3 linked regions of the Homo sapiens genome follow. The protein of the gene in region 1 interacts with the protein of each later gene in a biochemical or structural test. Each region holds a gene or a part of one and is shown on either strand. Other genes may lie near its edges.

Region 1 (7,054 bases):
CCAAAGTGCTGGGATTACAGGCATGAGCCACTGAGCCCAGGCTCCTTTATGACTTTTGTTAATAGCTTTGTGAATCTAACCAAATGGGATTGACATAGACTGGCATTAATACTGATGACAATCACCTTTTCCCAAGTGGAGAGCACCTCTGATTCTGGTTTACTACAGAGGCTCTGGCTTCTTCAAATATCAACATGATTTGTAAAGTGATTAAATTGTTTAAAAATATGCTGAATTAAATATTTATGGTCGCAGAAAAGCAGAAAGCACCAAGAAGCCTCAATTTATTTTCTAAATTTCATTTCTAAAAAGTTCAACAATATTTGTACAATTTTAGCGATTTGAAGTTTACTAAAATAGATTGTCACTAAGGACTGTAAATATCATGATGTGACCATTTTTGCAGACTGTCCTTAGAGTTAACAAGGAAGAAATTTAAACAGCAAGCACCATTAACTACAAGATAAAAGGCTTTTAAAAAATCCAAATTACAATTCCCATAGGGAGAGGGTTAATGTACCTCTTCATCAATTGTTAAAGGTATATTATTATTAAATGGATTAAAAACTTGCCAAATCTTACTTGGCCAGGCACCAGGAGGTTGGAATAATTAAAAGATAATAATCCTTAATAACCTGGAGCCATGAAATGTAACCTAGCTCATACCTACCCCTCACTCTTTTCATTGTAACCATTTCCATACACTGTGAGTTCACAGCCTCTTTTCTCCCCCAACGCACTCTGTTTTCACATCTCAGTACTTCTCTATTTTGCCTTCTTCCCTGTAGTTTGCCTGGGAATTATGTGAGAGCACTGGATGCTCTTCTACCTCCAGCAGGAAATTGCTGCTGGGGGAACTTCCTACCAGGGATAAGTTTTCCCTGTGTGGAAGGGGGTTGGGAGGGGTGTGTGTCTTGCAGGCCGCCTAGAATAGATTCCAGACCTTGGGCCACACAGCCTGGTAAGTCAACCAACAGCCTCCTCACACCTCATATTTGCATTCCAGTTCACTGAGTGATTTCACACACTGGCTGGCAATTCTTGAGCCTGCTGGAAAACCAACCAGGGATTCACCTCATCCATCACTGGTCTGCAACTGCCTTTTGAGGGCCACAGCAGGGGATGGAGAAATGTTTCTTAACCAGGGCTACATCAGCCAGTGAAGGGGGATACGCTCTCAAATGCAAACCCTGGAAAACCAGATGGATAAGAAGCAGACCTGGAGTTCAAGATGGGCTCCAAAGGTAAGAGAGGTAGGTTCAGATCCTGCTTCAGAGCTAACTAGTTGTATGACCCTGGGCAAGTTACCTAATCTCCTTAAACCTGTTTCTTCCTCTGTAAAATCGGGATAATAAAACCTACATTACAGGGTTTGGGAGCTTTAAAAGAAGTAACTGCAGGTAACGTACACAGCCCAGTGTGTGGTAAACAAAAATGTACTTGGTAAATGTTAAACCATTGTGCTTGGAAGTGGTGTGGGTTAATGGTCAAGAGCCTTGGGTCCGGAGCCAGACTGTTTGGGTTCAAATCCCACCCTTAGCATTTAATAGCTGAGAGCATTGGGTAACCTTCGCTGACTCAATTTATCTGTCATTAAAATGGAATTTTATTACAACATAGCAGATATTTAATAAATATTAGCTACTTTTATTTCATTGGCAGTAAAAACAGTTGATTGAGTTTCCACCTCAATCAACAACGTAGTAGTGAATTAAATGAGAATTCAGTACAATGCGTATTTTTTAAAAATTGTGAAGACCTTGTATGCATTTATGACTTTTTTGGGCAGAGTCAAGCTGCGATGCTAAGGGTGTGGTTAAACTGTAATATGAAGGAAAAAATTCAAACAGGGAGCATAAACCACCCACCAGGGAGCTATTTCTTTTGTAATGTGCATTCCATTTCTTCTCCCTCATGCTTTTTAATTCCTTCCATATTTCCTGCCATAATTATCAAATGTTTAGTTTCTGACCTCACTTTCCTGGAGACTGGAGCCCGGGGAATTTAGAATTGTTTATTTTCTGTCCATAAACCTTTGAGTTAATGGAGCGGCTTCTGAGCAAAGAGTTTGTTGGTTTGTTTGTAGTGTCTCAGGAAGGTCGTTAGAGTTGAAAAAATTGGTACAAAAAAACAAGCGCTGAAATGCTTTAACTGGAAACTCGAGCCCCCAAAGAGCAGAGCAATGGATCTTCTCTTACACTTGCGCAACGTTACAGGGAACACTTGGGAAAAGGCCGTTACATTGCCCAGATGATAACACAAAACCCGAGGACACTTCACAAAGAAGAAAATACATTTCAGAGAATCATGATCTCACTTTAAAAGAGAGAAAGGAAAATTAATTTTGCCCCAAAAGAAGAATCCCGATTCCTCTGCCCCCGCCCCCAGGAGACAGACTTGGGAGGGAAAAGTCCCCAACTACTCTCAGTCTCCTCTGAAGTGAAGGACGGAACTGAGGCGCCTTTTTGAACTCGCTGCTGCTCCAGTCGCCGCCTCGTCCCCGTCGGCCCAGCCCGTCCCCTCTCCTCCTCCCCGCTCTCCCTCCATGTTAGCCGCGGCGGGGCTCCCGCTTACGGCCCGAACTACTTTTCCTGCTTTAAAGATTTAAGTTTCGTAAGCAGCATTACTGCCCCAGCTCCACCCCAGCACACCCCAAGGACCGAAACTCCCAGCGCCACCCCGGGAGAGCATCCCCAGGACGCGCGCCCACCCGCCCAGCGCGCAGACCCAAGAGGCCCCGGGGACCGAGTTCGGACTCCTCGGCCCCTCGCCTACCTCGGCGCGGACCCAGGCGACCGCCACCAGCGCGAGCGCGAGCGCGAGCCAGCGTTTCCACATCTGCGGAAGAGAGAAGAGAGCGAGTCTGAAGGCGCCGGGCCCCGCGCTGACCTGGGAAACTTGCTCGGGTCCCGCAGGCTCGCTCCGGCCGCCCAAGCACCCCCGGCCGCCCGAAGAGTCCGGCCTCCGCGCCGTGCGCCCTGCGCTCACCGTGGTCTGGTCCAGGTCTCCTGGGGGCGCGGGGCAGGACGGCGGCAGCGAGCTGTAAGCGGAGGTGGGAGCTCCGCCGATCGCCAGCCTCGGAGGAAATGCGACCTCCCCTCGCCGCCCCTTAAGACCTCTCCTTCCCCGCCTGCCTGCCCCCCCAGCTCCTCCCCATTCTCCTCCCCCTTCTGCTGCAGCGGCCCCCGCGGCTCCCGCTCCCCCTCCTTCCGACCCCTGCTCCGGGGAGCCCGCGGGAGTCCTGGCGCCGCCGAACCCCTCTCTCCGCACGGTCCCTCGTCCGGCGCCCCTTCGGCCCCCTGGACGTGGAGCGGAGGCAGAGGGGGTGTCCCGTGGGTCCCTGCCACAAAGGGGTAGGGGGAAGGGAAACCCCACCCCGGGAGGGGCTGCTGGCTGGCGGCGGCCCGGGCGGGCTGCGGCGGTGGCCAGGTGGGCGGTGCCGTGGGGGGCCCGGGAAGGTCCGGGACTGGAACCTGGAGGAAAAGACGTCCCGCGGCCTAGGAAGCGGAGCCGCCCCCCATGGCTGAAGGGGGAGGCCCAGGGAGGCAGAGGAGACCCCGCATCCCGGGGTCACGGCAGCAGGGCAGCGGGGCACCGGGAAGTGGGCGCAGGGCCGGGAAGACCGGCCGGCGTGGGGAAGGCTGCTGTGGGTTCTACAGTGCATTGTCCCGGGTGAGGTGGCGGCCGCCCTGCTCTGCTGGGAAGATCCTGAGTCCAGCGTTTGCCGGCAGCCTCATCCCCTCCTTCCCTCGGGCCGGGGAGCGGTGTCCCCCTCCTCTCTTCCGCCCACTCACTCATCACCTGTGTCCCTCCTCCCATCCCTGTCATCCCAAGTAGCCTCTGTGTTCAGGATTGCCATCTTCACCACCTTCTTCCCAGCCCTTGGCCTTCGAAAGTGTGCTACCTCTTTGACAGGGTTAACTCCCTAAAATGCTCCTAATTAAGGCGCCTTTCCTGCCATAACTAGTAAGGAGAGCAGATCCACTTAGCAACTCAGATTTCACATGCCCAAGACTAAGCCTCACTTCCCCCAGCTTCAGGGCCTGCTTATCTACCTCTTTCAGGGTGGTTGCCTTCAAACCTATCTCCTTTTCTCAGAGCCGGCTTGTACCCATAGCCTGGCAGTTTAGCCGCTGAGATCTCATATGCATCCCCTCGCCTCCGTTCACATGTCCACTTTCCTAGGCCAGACCTTCATCCTCCCTCACTCAGAAATTCTGGAAACCTCCTTTCGTTGTCCTCTGACTCCAGGCTCTCCCCTGTAGTCTCCACTGCAATCCATTGTCATATTCTTTCCCTTATTTTAAACATTGTCTTCCTCGTGTTCATGTTCTTCCTCTACTCAGAAACTTCAGCGTTCTTCTACCCACATCAAATCCAAACTCTGCCTTTCTTATAAGCCCTGCATTACTGGGCCCACCCTGTCCATCTAACTTCTCTTCAACTACATCAGCATACTTCCTCCGCTCAAAGCAGGCCCATCTCCTCGTTGTCCTCTGAACTTGTCATACTCACTCTGCTGCCAAGGTTTGTTGAGTGCCCACTGTTGTGGCTTTAGGGGGCTTCAAGATAATACCCATGGTCCCCATGTAAGTTCAGAATCCACTGAGATAGCAACAGGAGTCAGACTTATGGAGAGCAAAATGTCAGCTTTGTCTCTGCTAAAGGCTGGAATGGCAGCCATGGCTTTAGATCTGCAGGGACAGCGGGCCCAGAATTGAACATGTCCACTCAGTCACAAGCAGAGCTGGAAAACCTGCCTGTGTAAAAACTAAACTGCATGGAAAAGCAGAAAATATGTGCCTCCTGGGACATGCCTGCTCCCCAAACTTGAGGGGGTAGAGTGACACATCCCCAGTTCTTTCAAACTCTCCAGTCAGACAACTTACTCCTGCTCCCTTGTTATGGTAATAAGATTAGGGAATAGATGTTCCGCACCAGATACTCTGTCTTGGTCACTGTGCAAGGATTGAAGGGAACTATTGTGGATAAAGTTCTGCCCTCGAATAACGCACAATACATTGCATCCCTTGCAGATCCACTGCACCCTCTCAGAATCTGGTATCATCTTTCCTCCCTTCCTCTTATCTACTAAAATGCTTGGGTTTGTTTGTTTGTTTTGTTTTCAGGAACCACGTCAAGTTTGCTTCCTTCATATCTTTTCTGACAACAGCTTGGCATGGTAGAAGGCACAGGAGGTTTGAGGTCAAACCAATCTGGCTTTCCATCCTATCACTGCCATTTACTAGCTGCATGGCCTGACTTGCATCAAATAATAAGCCCTCTGAACCTAGGTTTCTGCCTCTGACAAATGGCAGTGATAATGCCTTGCAGGGAGTTGTGAAATTTAAGCAGATGCATATAAAAAGTGCCTGGCAGGTAGTAGACCTCTGTATGTGATAGCCATTATTATTTCATGATCGGCTTTGCATCTAAATTGTAGTTGGTACTATACACCAGGTACTATGAAAGCCATTCAACATCTCTTATTTTATTTAATTTTCACAATAGATAGAAAGGAGGCTGGGCACGGTGGCCCATGCCTTGTAATCCCAGCACTTTGGGAGGCCAAGGCAGGCGGATCACTTGAGGCCGGGAGTTCGAGACCAGCTTAGCCAACATGATTAAACCCCGTCTCCACTAAAAATACAAAAATTAGATGGGTATGGTGGTGGGCACCTGTGGTGCCAGCTACTTGGGAGGCTGAGGCACCAGAATTGCTTGAACCCGGGAGGCAGAAGTTGCAGTGAGCCGAGATTGTGCCACTGCACTCCTGCCTGGGCAATAGAGAGAGACTCCATCTCAAAAAAATAATAACAATAAAAAATAAAAATTTAAAAAATACAGTAAATGGAAAGGTCTTTTTTATTGCTTCCGTTTTCCAAATAAAACTGAAGCTCAGGAAGATTTAGATACTTTCCCAAGTTTATACTGTTGGCTACACAGCCTTACAACTTGGGGCATTATATTGCAGACTGCTATACAATGTTTAACACTTGTTCTCATAGTTATTCTTGATTCTCCAGCTAGTTTTAAGTTGCTTAGAGCAAAAACAATGTTTTTCATATCTTTATCCTCTCTACATTTGGAACACAATTAATGGATTTGAGTATATCAAAATGAAATGAAAGATTCCTGTTCAACTGAGGGCACCATAGACAAAATGATAGAAGGAGATATAAATGTCTAAAACTGACATGTAACTCATAACACACACACATACACACACCCTGCAAATCAATCAGAAAAAGAAAACCCAATAAAAAAGGGCAATAGGTATGAATAGGCAATTCCCAAAAGGGGAACCCCAAATGGACAATAAATATAGAAAAGATACTCAACATCACTACTATTATTTAAATTGCACAACAACCATTTGAAATCAGTATTATTTTATTATCTCCAATATACAGATGAAGAAACACACACAGAGTTTAAGTAGTTTGTCCAAAGTTATACAGTAAATTATAAATGTCACTTTACACTCATCACAGTGGCAAAAATCAGACAGTTGGACAATATCAGTGTTAGCATGTGACTAGTGCAATCTTTGTGGTGTACTGTAGCAATTAAAAGCATGGGTTTATGAGACAGACTGCCTTGGTACAAAATTGCCTTGGTAGTAAATCTTAGCTTTACTACTTATTATGTAACCTTGGGCAAGTTACTTAACCCCTTGCATCTCAGTTGCCTCATCTGTAAAATCGTGATAATTGTACTGATTTCATAGAGCTATTGTGTAGATTAAATGTATCAATATGTAAAGTACTTAGAATAGTGTCTGGTACACAGTAAGCATATAAATAAGATGTATTACTACGGAAATAATTCACTAGAGAGCTCTTACAGGTACTGATGATAAAACTGTGCTGTGGCGTATGGTTAACTCTACAATAAATAAAGCAAAAGACAAAAATAAACTATGCAGTGGAGAAAATATTTTGAAATGAGATATTTGGAAATGTCTTATCATTAGGCTATTTTGTTATCCAAAACAATAAAAGTGTGGCACCATAAAAACTCTCGTGTATGCACATTTTAAAAACTTACACAA
Region 2 (7,112 bases), on another chromosome or scaffold:
TGTTTAAAGTTTTAGGATATTAAAATTGAAATCACTGATATTTCTTTTTTTAAATCGACATGATTAACCTATAAGAACTCGTGCATATTTAATATATAAATTTTGATGAATTTAAAGGTAAGTATATCCCTGTGAAACCATCACCATAAACATAAACATAAACATCATCTCTAAAAGTTTCTTCCTTTCCTGTTTGTGATAAGAACATTTAACATGAGCTCTACTCTCTTAACAAATTTTTAAATATACAATACAGTATTGTTAACTATATGCACTATGCTGTACAGCAGCTCTCTAGCAGTTACTCATCCTGTATAACTGAAACTATATACCCTTTGATCAACACCTTCCAGATTCTCCCACCACCCCAGTCTCTGGCAACCACCATTCTACTCTCTGCTTCTATGAGTCTGACTATTTTAAATTTCTGACACAAGTGGGCTTGTGTAGGATTTGTTCTGGCGCCGATTTTCTCTCTTTTTTTTTTTTTTTTAGACAGGGTATCATGGAGTGCAGTGGTGCAATTTCAGGTCACTGCAGCCTCCACCTCCCAGGTTCAAGCGGTTCTCCCTGCCTCAGCCATCAGAGTAGCTGGGATTATAGGCGTGCACCACCACACCCAGCTTTTTTTTTTTTTTTTTTTTGAGACAGTCTCACTGTCACCCAGGCTGGAGTGCAGTGGCACAATCTCAGCTCACTGCAGCCTCCGGCTCCTGGGTTCAAGAGATTCTCCTGCCTCAGTCTCCCGAGTAGCTGGGATTATAGGTACTTGCCCCCATGCCAGGCTAATTTTTTTTTTTATTTAGTAGAGGCGGAGTTTCACCATGTTGCCCAGGCTGGTCTCAAACTCCTGGCCTCAAGTGATCCGTCTACCTCGGCCTCCCAAACTGCTGGGATTACAGGCATGAGCCACTGCACCCAGCCCTAATTTTCATATTTTTTAGCAGAGATGGGGTTTCACCATGTCACTCAGGCTGATCCCAAACTCCTGAGTTCAAACGATCCAACCTCCTCAGCCATCCTCTTCGACCTCCCAAAGTGCTGGGATTATAGGTGTGAGCCACTGGGCCCAGCTGGCATTGATATTTTTAAAGAAACTTAGAAATCAAAATTTTGTACAAAGACACTTGTACTGGGATAATTTACTATGAAAAAAAAAACAAACAAAACCTAAAGAGGGTATTCCCGAAACATGAATAATAAATTTTGTTAGTGCAACAGACAAGCAACTAGTCAGTAAGTGTAACTTTTAAAGATTTTCAAACATGTTTTATAAATTTAAATGCCTGATTGTCCTTACATACACAAACTGAAATAATTATTAAACTAGGCAATAGCTTTAAAATGTTACAAAAAATATAAAGAAATAGATGATGACATCCATGTCTTTCAGCTACTATGTTCTAGTTATTCAAGAGACTGAGGCAAGAAGATCATTTGAACCCAGGAGTTAAAGGCAGCAGTGAGCTATCCTCACACCACTGCACTCCCAACTGGGCAACAGAGCGAGACACTATCTTAAAAAACAAACAAACAAACAAACAAACAAAACTAATACTGTGAAATTTTTTAAATATTTAACTCATTTAAATTTTTTTTTTTTTTTTTTTGAGACGGAGTCTCGCTCTGTAGCCCAGGCTGGAGTGCAGCGGTGCGATATCGGCTCACTGCAACCTCCGCCTCCCAGGTTCACGCCATTCTCCTGCCTCAGCCTCCCGAGCAGCTGGGACTACAGGCACCCACCACCACGCCCGGCTGATTTTTTGTATTTTTAGTAGAGACAGGATTTCGCTGTGTTAGCCAGGATGGTCTCGACCTCCTGACCTCGTGATCCGCCCGCCTCGACTTCCCAAAGTGCTGGGATTACAGGCGTGAGCCACCGCGCCCGGCCTAACTCATTTAAAATTTTTAATAATAAACTGACTAGATATTAAGGTAAATAATATTTTTTACTAAAAATAAAAGATTTCTGAAAACAAAAACATTTAGTAAGAAGAGGTATTCTTTTACATTTTTGCAAGTTGCTTTAACTCTGGCTTCAGAGAAGACAATATGGATTCTCATACCTGCTCCTGTATCCAATCTGTTGTACTGTGTGGTTTTTTTGGTTGAAGTCTATGAATCAAATCCTTTTTCAGAGAGACATGCAGTTGGAAAAAGGTGGGGTGTCTCAGCAGCCTTTTCAGATCACTGTGGACATTCTTCCTTGATACAACACCAAAACCAGGCAAGGGGGAGTCTCTTAAAAAAAAAAAGTTGTGGCCGGGAGTGGTGGCTCAGGCCTGTAATCCCAGCACTTTAGGAGATCAATGCGGGCGGATCACGAGGTCAGGAGTTCGAGACCAGCCTGACCAACACGTGAAACCCAATCTCTACTAAAAATACAAAAATTAGCCAGGCATGGTGGCAGGCACCTGTAATCCCAGCTACTCAGGAGGCTGAGGTAGGAGAATCACTTCAACCTGGGAGGCAGAGGTTGCAGTGAGCTGAGATCGCGCCACTGCACTCCAGCCTGGGAGACAGAGCAAGACTCCATCTCAAAAAAAAAAAAAAAAAAAAAAAAGTTATAATGTAGAATCTATAACTCTTATCAGTGAACTTTTCATATCACTACATTAAAATCCATTGGTCTATCTTTTGAATGAATCTTTTACCCATGCACTATGACTTTGTAACGTGGTGCAATGGTGAGCTGGAAAATATTAGTTCACAAAATTATGTGGATCTTCCAAATGCTGACACATTTAATTATATAATATCAAATACTCATTCATTATATTGTCACCAATCTCATCAAAGAAGTCGTTAACTATTGAGAAACTGTCAAGCTCACTGTAGCAGATAAATTTTTTCAAAATTTTGATTTTTGCTTGAAAGCACAAATATTATCATTGGTCATAAATTGTCAGTTATTTCCTCTCATTTATTTTCCAGAAAACGTCCACCAAATACCCAAGTCTCAATAACTGCAGATTGTCTGCTACCCACTTTTTCAAGCAAAAATGGCATTTCACAATAAAAGCAGCTAGTTCGCTTTGCAACTCAAACTACACAATTGCTGTTTCTCAAAACAGGCACTGTACCTCTTTGTGCAGCAAAAGCAATTCATGTACTTCCCATTTCCTCATGAAAAGACAAAAGGCCAATTTTTTTTTTTAATTTTTACTGCTTCATCAGGGTCTGTTTAAGTGAAAGCAGCCCTTTTTGTTTTTTTAAAACTGCAAGTGGAGAGGTAGCGAATAATATAATGACTATCAGTGACACTTGGAGTCCCTGCCTCAATTTACGTTAAAGTGCCCAGCAGTTTTCCCTATTACTGCTTTTGGACCATCAGTACAAGTGTCAACACAGTGAAAACAGAAATGGCATCTTAGTATCATTATAAAAATAGTCTCCCTCTGCCTCCTGGGTTTGAGCGATTCTCCTGCCTCAGCCTCCCACGTAGCTGGGATTACAGGCACGTGCCACCATGACCAGCTAATTTTTTTTTTGTTATATTTAGTAGCAACGGGGTTTTGTCATGTTGGTCAGGCTGGTCTCGAACTCCAGACCTCAGGTGATCCAACCACCTCGGCCTCCCAAAGTGTTGGGATTACAGGAGTGAGCCACCATGCCCAGCCAAAATCTGACTTTTGACAGCTGAAATATTACCTAGGATGCAGTGGACACTGAATAATTACTGAATAAGTGAAAACAAATACAAAAACAAAAAGCAGCAAGAACTCCAAAAGAGGGGACAAATGATATGGAAGTTCTGAGAAAGCAGTCACATTAGAGATGATCAAGGAAGGTTCAAAATAAGAGGGTGCTTTGAATATTCCCTCAAAGTTTCTTTTCAGCAATTTATTCTATATTATAAAGATCCTCACCATTCTTATCCATCATTCAAAGGAAATTCTGCTTTCCTGAAACAACAAATATTGGTTCAAATTCTGAATTGTGTTCAGAAGAATTATCATCATTAAGTACCATTTAACTAAAGTGCTCTAGAAAATAATCTACATGCTGTTCCAGGAGAACTTCCCTATCTCATATTCTGACATTTGTTGTGTGTTTTCTTGAAAAAAAAAAAAAAAAAAAAAAAAAAAGACATGAATATTAAGAAAAAGGAAGAAACTCAGTGCCCAATGCAGCAGTGTTGAGCGGCAGAACCTTTAAGAGATGATCAGTGGATTAATGCTGTTATCGCAGGGACAGGTTAGTTATCAGGAATGCGTTCCAGACAAAAGGATGATTTTGGCCCCCTTCCTCTCTCGTCCACACATTCTCTTGCCTTCTCACCTTCCACCATGGGATGACAGGCCAAGAAAGTCCTTGCTAGATGCTAGTACCTTAATATTGGACTTCCATCCTCTGGAACTGTGAGAAATAAATTTTTCTTTGTAAATTACCTATATGTGGTGTTCTGTTATAGAACACAAACACAACACAAAATAGACTAAGATAGAGAGCATTTGGGGTGGCCTTTGACAGATGAGTAGAATCTGAACATGAGAACGTTTTTCTTTTTTTGAGACGAAGTTTCGCTCTTGTTGCCCAGGCTGGAGTGCAATGGTGCAATCTCGGCTCACTGCAACCTCTGCCTCCCAGGTTCAAGTGGTTCTCCTGCCTCAGCCTCCCAAGTAGCTGGGATTACAGGCATACGCCACCACGCCCGGCTAATTTTTTGTATTTAGTAGAGATGGGGTTTCACCATGTTGGTCAGGCTGGTCTGGAACTCCTAACCTCAGGTGATCCACCCGCCTCAGCCTCCCAAAGTGCTGGGATTACAGGTGTGAGCCACTGCGCCTGGCTGAACATGAGAACTTTTATATACCACAAAATATTCAAGAAGCACAACAAATGTTTATTAACACAAAGGCAATGACAGGCTGTCATTTTGAAAATTAAGAATTATGGGCCAGGCGCGATGGCTCATGCCTGTAATCCCAGCACTTTGGGAGGCCGAGGCAGGTGGATCACGAGGTCAGGAGTTCAAGACCAGCCTGGCCAATATGGTGAAATCCTGTCTCTACTAAAGATACAAAAAACTAGCCAGGCGTGATGGCGTGTGCCTGTAATCCCAGCTACTCAGGAGGCTAAGACAGGACAATTGCTTGAACCCGGGAGGTGGAGGCTGCAGTGAGCCGAGATCGCGCCACTGAACTCCAGACTGGGCAACAGAGTGAGACTCCGTCTCAAAATATACACACACACACACACACACACACACACACACACACACAAATATATCCCAGATTTTAGAAATTAAAGACAGTTAAAGAGGAAAAAAGCTTTGTGAGAGAAGTCTCTTCCTGTATACCCAGAGTTTTTTCCCCCTTTTCATTTTATTCCATCTAGACTAGAAGTCCTGCATTGTTAGAATATAAGAAATCAAGAAAAAGACTAAAGTTAAAGCTATGGAATAGACCTATTAACCAGAATAAAGTAATTGGAATGGGATAAAGGTAGCCTATTGTGTAGGAATTTCCTCTCTAACCCACTGTAGTCTATTAAAACAAAGAACAAAATACCACTGTCCATGTTTTTAAAGCAGTTCAGCAGCAATAGCTCCAAGACACGTACAGCACTGGTGTGCCAAAATCAGCTGTGAGGTGTGTCCAAGGTAATTTGTTACAGCAACAGGCAAAGCACAAAGGTTTGGGAATTAATTCTTTTTTAAATATCAAGGTTATACCTCTAATGATCTCACTTCCATCAATGAACATCCTGATAGGTTTTCAGGAACCACACATATGAATTCTTCTGTATGTGTTCATGATTGGGGGGCAGGGGGTCTAAGAAGAGTGGGGTTCCATGTACTTCTACTCTTCATCTTCATCTTAATCTGAAGCAGACTCCTAAGTCAAGAGGGCAAAACAGCCAGAAAAGTTAAGGAGCAAGAACACAGCTATGCCTTATTTCCCTCTTGGGAATCTATAACAGAAATTCAGCAAACTTGCCCTATGGAAATAAATCATAGCATTCTACCAGAACCTTCCCTCAGGGCCAACGCCAATCACTATGGTTGATGATGAGAATGCAGTGAGGATGCTGGAGAATAAGGCCAGGTGTGAGGTATGAAGAAAGGCAGAGGATACTTTCAACAGGCTGAGGGGAAGGCATGCAGGATTTTCTAGATTATTCAGGTATCACTCATTACCAGTTTCTGTTGAAGACAGCATCTTTGTCACTGTTAAGCTTCTTCTTCCAACCTACCAAGCACAGTGACAACTCTTAAGTTTTAGGCAATTTCTCACTTAGATAAATGTGAATGCTATAAAAAAGTTACACTATTTTGACAATATATAAAAATTATAACAATGAAACACTAATGTTGGTTGTTTTAGGACTATAACTCATTACTAATATCTCCCTTTAATTATATAAATAAAACACCTTACCAGTTTCGAAGCATTTTCACACACACTATGTGACTGAATCTTGACAATAAACCTGGAATGTCAATAAAGCTGGTATTCACCCCCTTTTACAGCTAACTAAACCCACGTTTAGAGACATTGTAATCCACAGGAGATTCACAGACACTTTACCAGATGCCCACCACTGTGTGAAGAAGCCAAAAATCTGCCTAAAACAAAGTCCTTACCAGTAAGCATCTCCAAATCCAACAGGGAGAGCCCACGTCAACAACAACCACCACATAAACTACATAAGCCAGCATTAACCTGTGGAAGCGCCCTGGAAGCAGGTCCACGTGTGACTGTGCCTAAGTAATCACTGACCTATTTTGGCCAAAAGAAAAGTGTCAGGCCAGTCTAGGAGCAGGGAAAGAAGCCAAGAAGCCAGAGCTTCCACCTCCTTGGCTGCCACTCTACTACTCTGTTCTCTGCTGTCTTCCCTTTAACACTTTTTTTTGAGACAAGGTCCCACTCTGTCTCCCAGGCTGGAATGCAGTGACACTATAAAGGCTCACAACCTCGTCAGGTGATCCTCCCACCTCGGCCCCTCAAGTAGCTGGGACTACAGGCACACACCACCATGCCCAGCCAATTTTTTTTTTTTTTTGGAAGAGGCAGGGTCTCCCTATGTTGCCTAGGCTGGTCTCAAACTCCTGGGCTCAAGTGATCCTCCTGCCTGGGCCTCCCAAAATGCAAACATAACAGGCCTAA
Region 3 (7,112 bases), on another chromosome or scaffold:
GCATAAGCTAAAATTACAATAGTTAATCCTTTACAAGAGCCATATTCACATACTTTCCTTATGGGACCATCATTACACGTGGCTTCACAGGATGCTGTGCTGGATTTTGGTTCTTAGGAACACACCTCCTCCCTGCAGTTTCCACTGTGACTCTCACAGCAGCACACTAAGGCAAGAGACGAGCTGTGGCACTGCTATTTTAACACCTGACTCAAAGTCAGTAATAAATATGACCACTTTTAAACACTACAAGGGCTATCATAATCTTTTGTTAAAATAAAAATCATTTCTGCTGTTGAAATGATTTTAGATATTTAGAAACATTTCAAAACAACATCTATGAAGTATGTTTATGAAAGCTGCCCTGGAATAAATTATTCAATATCAAATTTGATCCTGGGCCAACCCAAAGATGCATGATTCTTTAAAAACTATAGTGCATTTTTGTTCTAAACAGAACAAAGCATCTGAAGAAAAGTACTGATTGTTAGAGTAAATCAAAATTTGGCACGTTCTAGGAAAACATAATTTTAAAAAACTATAGGTCACTTTCTAAGTTTAGAAACACTTCTGGACACTGGAAAGGCAATGTAAAAATACTGATTAAAATAACTTTTGTGAAAATATTTCCAAAGAAATCAGATGCAAGTTTTATACATCAGAAACTTGTTCAGTAAAAAGCACAGTAAAAGCTTAGAATAAACAAACTGAAGGAAACCCTAATGTGCCTTTAATCCTAGAGCTATTTGCCAGCATAAAGAGAATTCACAAGAACTCTCTTTGAGGGTTAACTTTTCCTGTTTATAGTCAGGTAGTTTGGGTTGTTTGCTTTTATATTTTAATTATTTAAAGAGCTATCTGAATGAAGCTACACACTTCAAAAACACTAAATTGCAAGTGGGACCAAATAATGGCTTCCAAGGTTTTACGAATTTACTAACTATGGTACTACATAATACTTCTTCTTGCTGGCCTATCATATTCTTTAAATATTTCACTTAGTCGATGAGCTTCAGATTTAAGAATAAGAGTGGAAAGGAGAGACAAGAACTAAGTTTAATGCAACATTTTTGTTTTTTGTTATTTATTTGTTTGTTTATTTGAGATGGAGTTTCGCTCTTTTGCCCAGGCTGGAGTGCAGTGACACGATCTCAGCTCACTGCAACCTCCACCTTCTGATTTTAAGCAATTCTCCTGCTTCAGCCTCCCGAGTAGCTGGGATTACAGGCACCCGCCACCACGCCTGGCTGAGTTTTTTATTTTTAGTAGAGATGGGGTTTCACCATGTTGGCCAGGCTGGTCTTGAACTCCTGACCTTGTGATCCACCCGCCTCAGCCTCCCAAAGTGTTGGGATTACAGGCGTGAGCCACCGCGCCCGGCCACATTTTTAGATTAAGATTCCAAAGACGGCAGCATTTGCTTTTTAAAGAACATGTTATACTAGAAAATGTTTTTACTGAGCAAGTTTCTAAGATTAACTCTTGATATCACTTTTACTAGACCAAGTTAATTTTAAAAAACCATAATAGTGGTCTCATATACTGGCTGTAATTTTTTGCTTCCACACACCATTTGAACATTTCCAATAAACTTTGCCTGTCTTTATATTTTTATTAAGATGACAAATGAACTTTGGGAGGCCGAGGCAGGTGGATCATGAGGTCAGGAGATTGAGACCATCCTGGCTAACAAGGTGAAACCCCGTCTCTACTAAAAATACAAAAAATTAGCCGGGCGCGGTGGCGGGCGCCTGTAGTCCCAGCTACTCGGGAGGCTGAGGCAGGAGAATGGCGTGAACCCGGGAAGCGGAGCTTGCAGTGAGCCGAGATTGCGCCACTGCAGTCCGCAGTCCAGCCTGGGCGACAGAGCGAGACTCCGTCTCAAAAAAAAAAAAAAAAAGATGACAAATGATTTTAAAGATTATGGTATCAAGTCAAAAGTAAACCAAGATTTAAGTAAATTGGGTGTTCTAAGTGCAATCATATCATACGGCAACGCAGATTAAAATATTTGTATTTCTCAGTATACATATGGTGAAAAATTCTGAAAAAACAAGTTATTGGGTATTATCCATATGCAAATTTACTTATCTTGATGAACACTTCAGACTTTAATTATGGCAGATGAAACTTATTAATCAAAATGGTTAAGGCAATTTTCAAATTTGTGAAATTTGATGTGCAGACAAATTTGTAAGTTTTAACCTTAAATGATAGTCAAATTTTGGTAATGGGTGGACATATGCTGATTTCCTCCCATTTAATTTAAACCTTTTTGATGATGATGTGATATAATCACATTTATTTTATGTTATAATCAAATAAAACTATCTCACTTGATGTACTCATGAATTGTTTGCTCAGAATAAATATTTAAAAAGCATTAAAGAAGTATAAGTTTATGTAAATCAGATTTCTTGAGATAACAAGGCATCTATAAAATATGAACCATTTTATTGAAGAACAGTTATACAGTGTAGCTACAGATACTGACTAGATACTAAATATTTCTGCCTGATTTTTCATTGTCTTCACAAGTTAGGGAATAGAAATCAAAAAACCAAAAATCTCAAATGATTTAGCTGTCCAGAACATATTTGACAGTTGATAAATTTATAACAGCTCTGACATATAAATTTCTAATTAGAGAATCCTTTCATTTGAAAAAATTGAGATGATATTACCCTAATGAAGTTTTTACCTGAAGTTAACAAAGTCCTGGATTTGATATATTACTTTGAATGCATTAATTCTGAAAATTTATATTTAGTTCTACTTTATAACATTTCTTCTCTTAAGGATGGGATATGAGGTACACATGAGCTGGTTTCTACAGTATGAATGTATGTACATATATAAAGTATGGTTGTAAAGGAGTGGGTGATTTGCAAATAAAGCACATTATACACAAAATATAAATAACTTCCCTTTTAAAAGTTACTGAGAATAAAGAATATAGAACATGGTTATAGGCACTTACATTGCTATCAAATGCAGGAATTCACTTCAATAAGAAGTGCTTTCTTTGTAAGCATGGTTCATGGCAATAGAAGCTCCAACTTTGGAGAGGATGCTTTCCGTGACAAAAATAATAACCACAAAAAAAATGGTGGTTGAAGGAAAACAGTCCAAATTTACAGATGCTTTAAACTTCTTTTGGCCTTGGCATCAGCTTTCATGTTAAAAAATAAAGCTGGTGGGGAAGCTATCTCACTTGCAAAGTAAATGGCTTGTATGAGATTGGCGAATCTTGGTCAGATATTGCATTTTTAAAGCACAAAACCACCGGCCACCAATATCTTCCTGTGCATGCATATAAATTATTTTCTTCTAATTCAAATGGCAGCAGAGGAATCCCGGCGTGCATGTGCATGGAGACACACACACATCACTAAGGACACAGGACAAACTATCATAAAATAAGCAGTATCCCAAACACATCATCATCTATAGGCTGTTTTACAAAGGTAGAATACAAACGAACTGAAAGTCTCAGGTAAAAGGCAAAGTCTATTTCTCCATCTCTGCTGCGCTCATTTATCTTCTTAAGGCTTTCACAGAAAGCACCGTTTTATGAACAGGCAATTCAGTACCCAGAGCTTGACTGGAGACACTAATCAGGATTGAAGTCTTGATGCAGTTCATAAAAACCCACTTAAAAAAAGGCATCAAAAACCACATTTAAAATAAAGCTGTCCATATATAAAGAATGAAGTGTTTAGAAGTTCCCAGCTTGTATCCTAATAAGAGTACTGAAAGGTTTAATATTAGCAGCCTGTGAACACGTAGTGAAGAAAGAGTCTGAGAACCAAGTTAACATCCTTATTCCACTCTAATTCCACCCATGCCATGGGTAAAAACAGTTCTTGCAGTCTAGAGTTTCTCCTCCGATGGTTTAACCATCAGATTTTTACATCTTGGGATTCAACCATCTTGGCAAGCGTCTTCTTAATTCTCAATGCTGTGAGTCTGGAGGCTGGATTGTGGGCCCAGCATTCTGACATTAGCTTCAAAACTGCTCGTAGACACTGAAAAGTAAAGAGATGTTCAGTGAGCAGAGAATATATTTGGTGGCATTTACGAATCACTTCTTCAGGGGACTGAGTTCCACTCACTTCATCACTGTTCCACCGATTAGACACAATTGGCCGCAAACGTTTGACACACACAACCTCACGCATATCTTCGTATGACGGATCACTCGGTACCATGTTGTAATATGGCAATTGGTATTCTTCCACGATCCCTATAAGGGAATGAGAAAACATGGGCACAAAAATGGTTGCTGGACAAGATATACCAATCTAGTAAGCATCTTTTGCTAAACTATGGAACTAAAACGGATTCTTACACAAGAAAAAATATAGACACTATGATTCACTCTTAATAGTAGATGTATGTTTTTCTCTTATTTATGTCCAACTATTTCCTCTACCTCCACCAGGGATGTCATCACAACTGTGATAGAGTCCATCGACAAAGGGCATATCAATCTTCCTTAAAAAAAATAAGCAAGGCGAAATCAGCCATTTACCCTAAAGTATAATTATTTACTTATATGGTTGTTCCTACTAATGAATAGTTTTTATTATTTTGTTTCATTTTGCTCTGCAGTAGAAAGACTTATGAGGTGCAGATAAGGGTTCACACAGCAGGCCTGAGACCTTCCCTTAGGAAAGGCGGCTTGCAAGGTTTGGCCTTGGCCAGTGCCCGGGTACACAAATGGTAAACAGTTCCCTACATGGATATAAAACTTACCGGAAACGGTGAGGGTAACTCACCACTCCTGGGCTGCTTGTGCAAACAATGTGGTGTGTACTGCACGTCTGCTTTCCTGCTGGAATTCTGGTACATGCCAGGCAGAGGATGCCTATGTGACCAGCCTCCAGTAAAATCTCTGGGTGCCAAGTCTCTAAGGAGCTTTCCCGAATGAGAACACTTTGTATGTGTTGTCACAACTAGTAAGAGGAATGAAGCACACGCCCTGACTCCGCTGGGACAGGATTCTGGGAAGCCTCGCCTGGTTTTCTAAACTTGGCTGATTTTGATTTGTATCCTTTCACTGGGATAAATGTTAGCCATTGGGACAACCACATGCCGAGTCCTGTGGTCCTTCAAGTGAAATCGCACAACCTGGGGGTGGTCTTGGGGACTCTGACGTATGTGACATCTAAATTACGTAACTGCCAGCAATTGCACTCCTAGGTGTATACCCAAAAGAAAGGAAATCAGCTAACCGAAGAGATACCTGCACCCTCATGTTTGCTGCAGCACTGTTCACAATAGCCAAGATGTGGAAGCAACCTAAGTGACCATCAACAGATGAACACATCAAGAAAATGTGGCACCTACACACAATGGAGTATCATTCAGCCAGAAAAAAGAATGAGATTCTGCCTTCTGAAATAACATGGAGGAACTGGATGTCATAACGTTAAGTAAAATAAGCCAGGCACAGAAAGACAAACTTCACATGTTCTCACTTACTTGTGAGATCTAAAAATCAAAACAACTGAACTCATGGAGAACAGAAGGATGGTTACCAGAGGTTGGGAAGGGTAGCAGCAGATGGGGGGGGATGTTTAATAAGTAGAGACAAAATAGAAGAATGAATAAGTATTTGGTATTTTATAGCACAACGGGGAGGACTACAGTTAGTAATAATTTAATTGTACACTTAAAAATAACTCAAGGAGTATAACTGGTTGGTGAAACAAAGGATAAATGTCTGAAGGGACAGATATCCAATTCTCCAAGATGTGATTATTACACATGGCATGCCTGTATCAAAATAACTCCTTATCCAATAATATATACACCTACTATGTGCCCACAAAAATTAAAAACTAAAAAGTTATATAACTGGAGCTGTTATTTTTAAAATGATGAGTAAATCAACATAATCAGAAACTACTCAAACTCCCACCTCCTGTGATACAACGACGAGCCATCTCCCAAATGATTAGGCCGAAGCTGTAGATGTCAGCCATGATGTAGGGCTGGAAGTGGTTTTTGTTCAGGCTTTCGTCCAGCACTTCGGGAGCCATGTAGCGTTTGGTGCCCACCCTGGTATTCAAGGGCACATCAACTTCATTTGTGTCACTGAAACAAAAGAAAGCCAAGGTCCAAGTTGAGGGCCAAAAATAAAATAGTTTATCTTGTATTTTTGTCCTATTTTATAAAAGCTTCTTTTTCTCCTTGGGGCCAGATGCATTGTGGAATTTAGCATTTTTCAGATTTTTCTTTAAATACATGCTACATACTACATGACATCCTCAGCAGGGTTGGGGCAGCACTCTTAATCCAACTCAGTACTCAGTACTGTGTCTACAGCAAAACACTAAGTCCGATAGTCCTCCTCAACTGGATAAGGGCAATACACACCTCACATCCGTTCAGGTCAGGTTTTGTCACTAAATAAGTCTGGTGTCTAAGAAAGAGGACAACACTGAATATAAGATAAAGTTAAGCCAGGCACGGTTGCTCATGCCTGTAATCTCAGCACTTTGGGAGGCCAAGGCGGGCGCATCACCTGAGGTCAGGTGTTCAAGATCAGCCTGGCCAACATGGTAAAACACTGTCTCTATAAAATACAAAAGTTAACCAGGGTTGGTGGCACATGACTATAATTCCAGCTACTTGGGAGGCTGAAGCACGAAAATTACTTGAACCTGGGAGGCGGAGACTGCAGTGAGCCGAGACCATGCCACTGCACTCCAGCCTGGGCAACAGAGTGAGAATCTCTCTCAAAAAAAAAAAAAAAAAGAAAAGAAAAGGAAAAAAAAAAGATAAAGTAGTAGATAATTATGTCTGAGAAGTGGTGAATATGAAAATACAAGAGGAATCGCTTGCTTTTACCACTCTCATATGATACACTAAGGCTTTGTGACATAGGATTACATTTTCTTCTTTATGGGTCCCATCAACAGAGTTCTGTTGTTAGCAATGTTTACATGATCATACTGACAATTAGTAATAATTACTCTAAAGCAGTGATCAATATAATGCGTTGTATTTTCCTATAGCATCTGATAAATATCTGAGCCAACAAATACTACACTGACTCAGAACACTGTAACAGATTTAAATGTCTCTTACAGTTGTTTTAAAGA

What was found.
Region 2: the proteins of FSTL1 (region 1) and DIP2A interact in a biophysical measurement, tested with the Homo sapiens proteins (one study listed by IntAct).
Region 3: the proteins of FSTL1 (region 1) and BMPR1A interact in a biophysical measurement, tested with the Homo sapiens proteins (one study listed by IntAct).

What each region holds. Positions count from the first base shown.
Region 1 is NC_000003.12:120,447,909-120,454,962, forward strand, and holds the start of FSTL1 (follistatin-related protein 1 precursor), read right to left. Parts: upstream 3,085-7,054; 5' UTR 2,989-3,084; intron 2,839-2,988; coding exon 2,776-2,838; intron 2,747-2,775; exon of another isoform or gene 1-2,746.
Region 2 is NC_000021.9:46,461,794-46,468,905, reverse strand, and holds part of DIP2A (disco-interacting protein 2 homolog A), read right to left. Parts: intron 6,436-7,112; exon of another isoform or gene 6,384-6,435; intron 6,195-6,383; exon of another isoform or gene 6,143-6,194; intron 5,841-6,142; exon of another isoform or gene 5,678-5,840; intron 1-5,677. UniProt on the Homo sapiens protein: Catalyzes the de novo synthesis of acetyl-CoA in vitro. Promotes acetylation of CTTN, possibly by providing the acetyl donor, ensuring correct dendritic spine morphology and synaptic transmission.
Region 3 is NC_000010.11:86,920,510-86,927,621, reverse strand, and holds part of BMPR1A (bone morphogenetic protein receptor type-1A isoform 3 precursor), read right to left. Parts: intron 6,103-7,112; coding exon 5,927-6,102; intron 4,247-5,926; coding exon 4,116-4,246; intron 4,029-4,115; coding exon 3,903-4,028; 3' UTR 1-3,902. UniProt on the Homo sapiens protein: On ligand binding, forms a receptor complex consisting of two type II and two type I transmembrane serine/threonine kinases.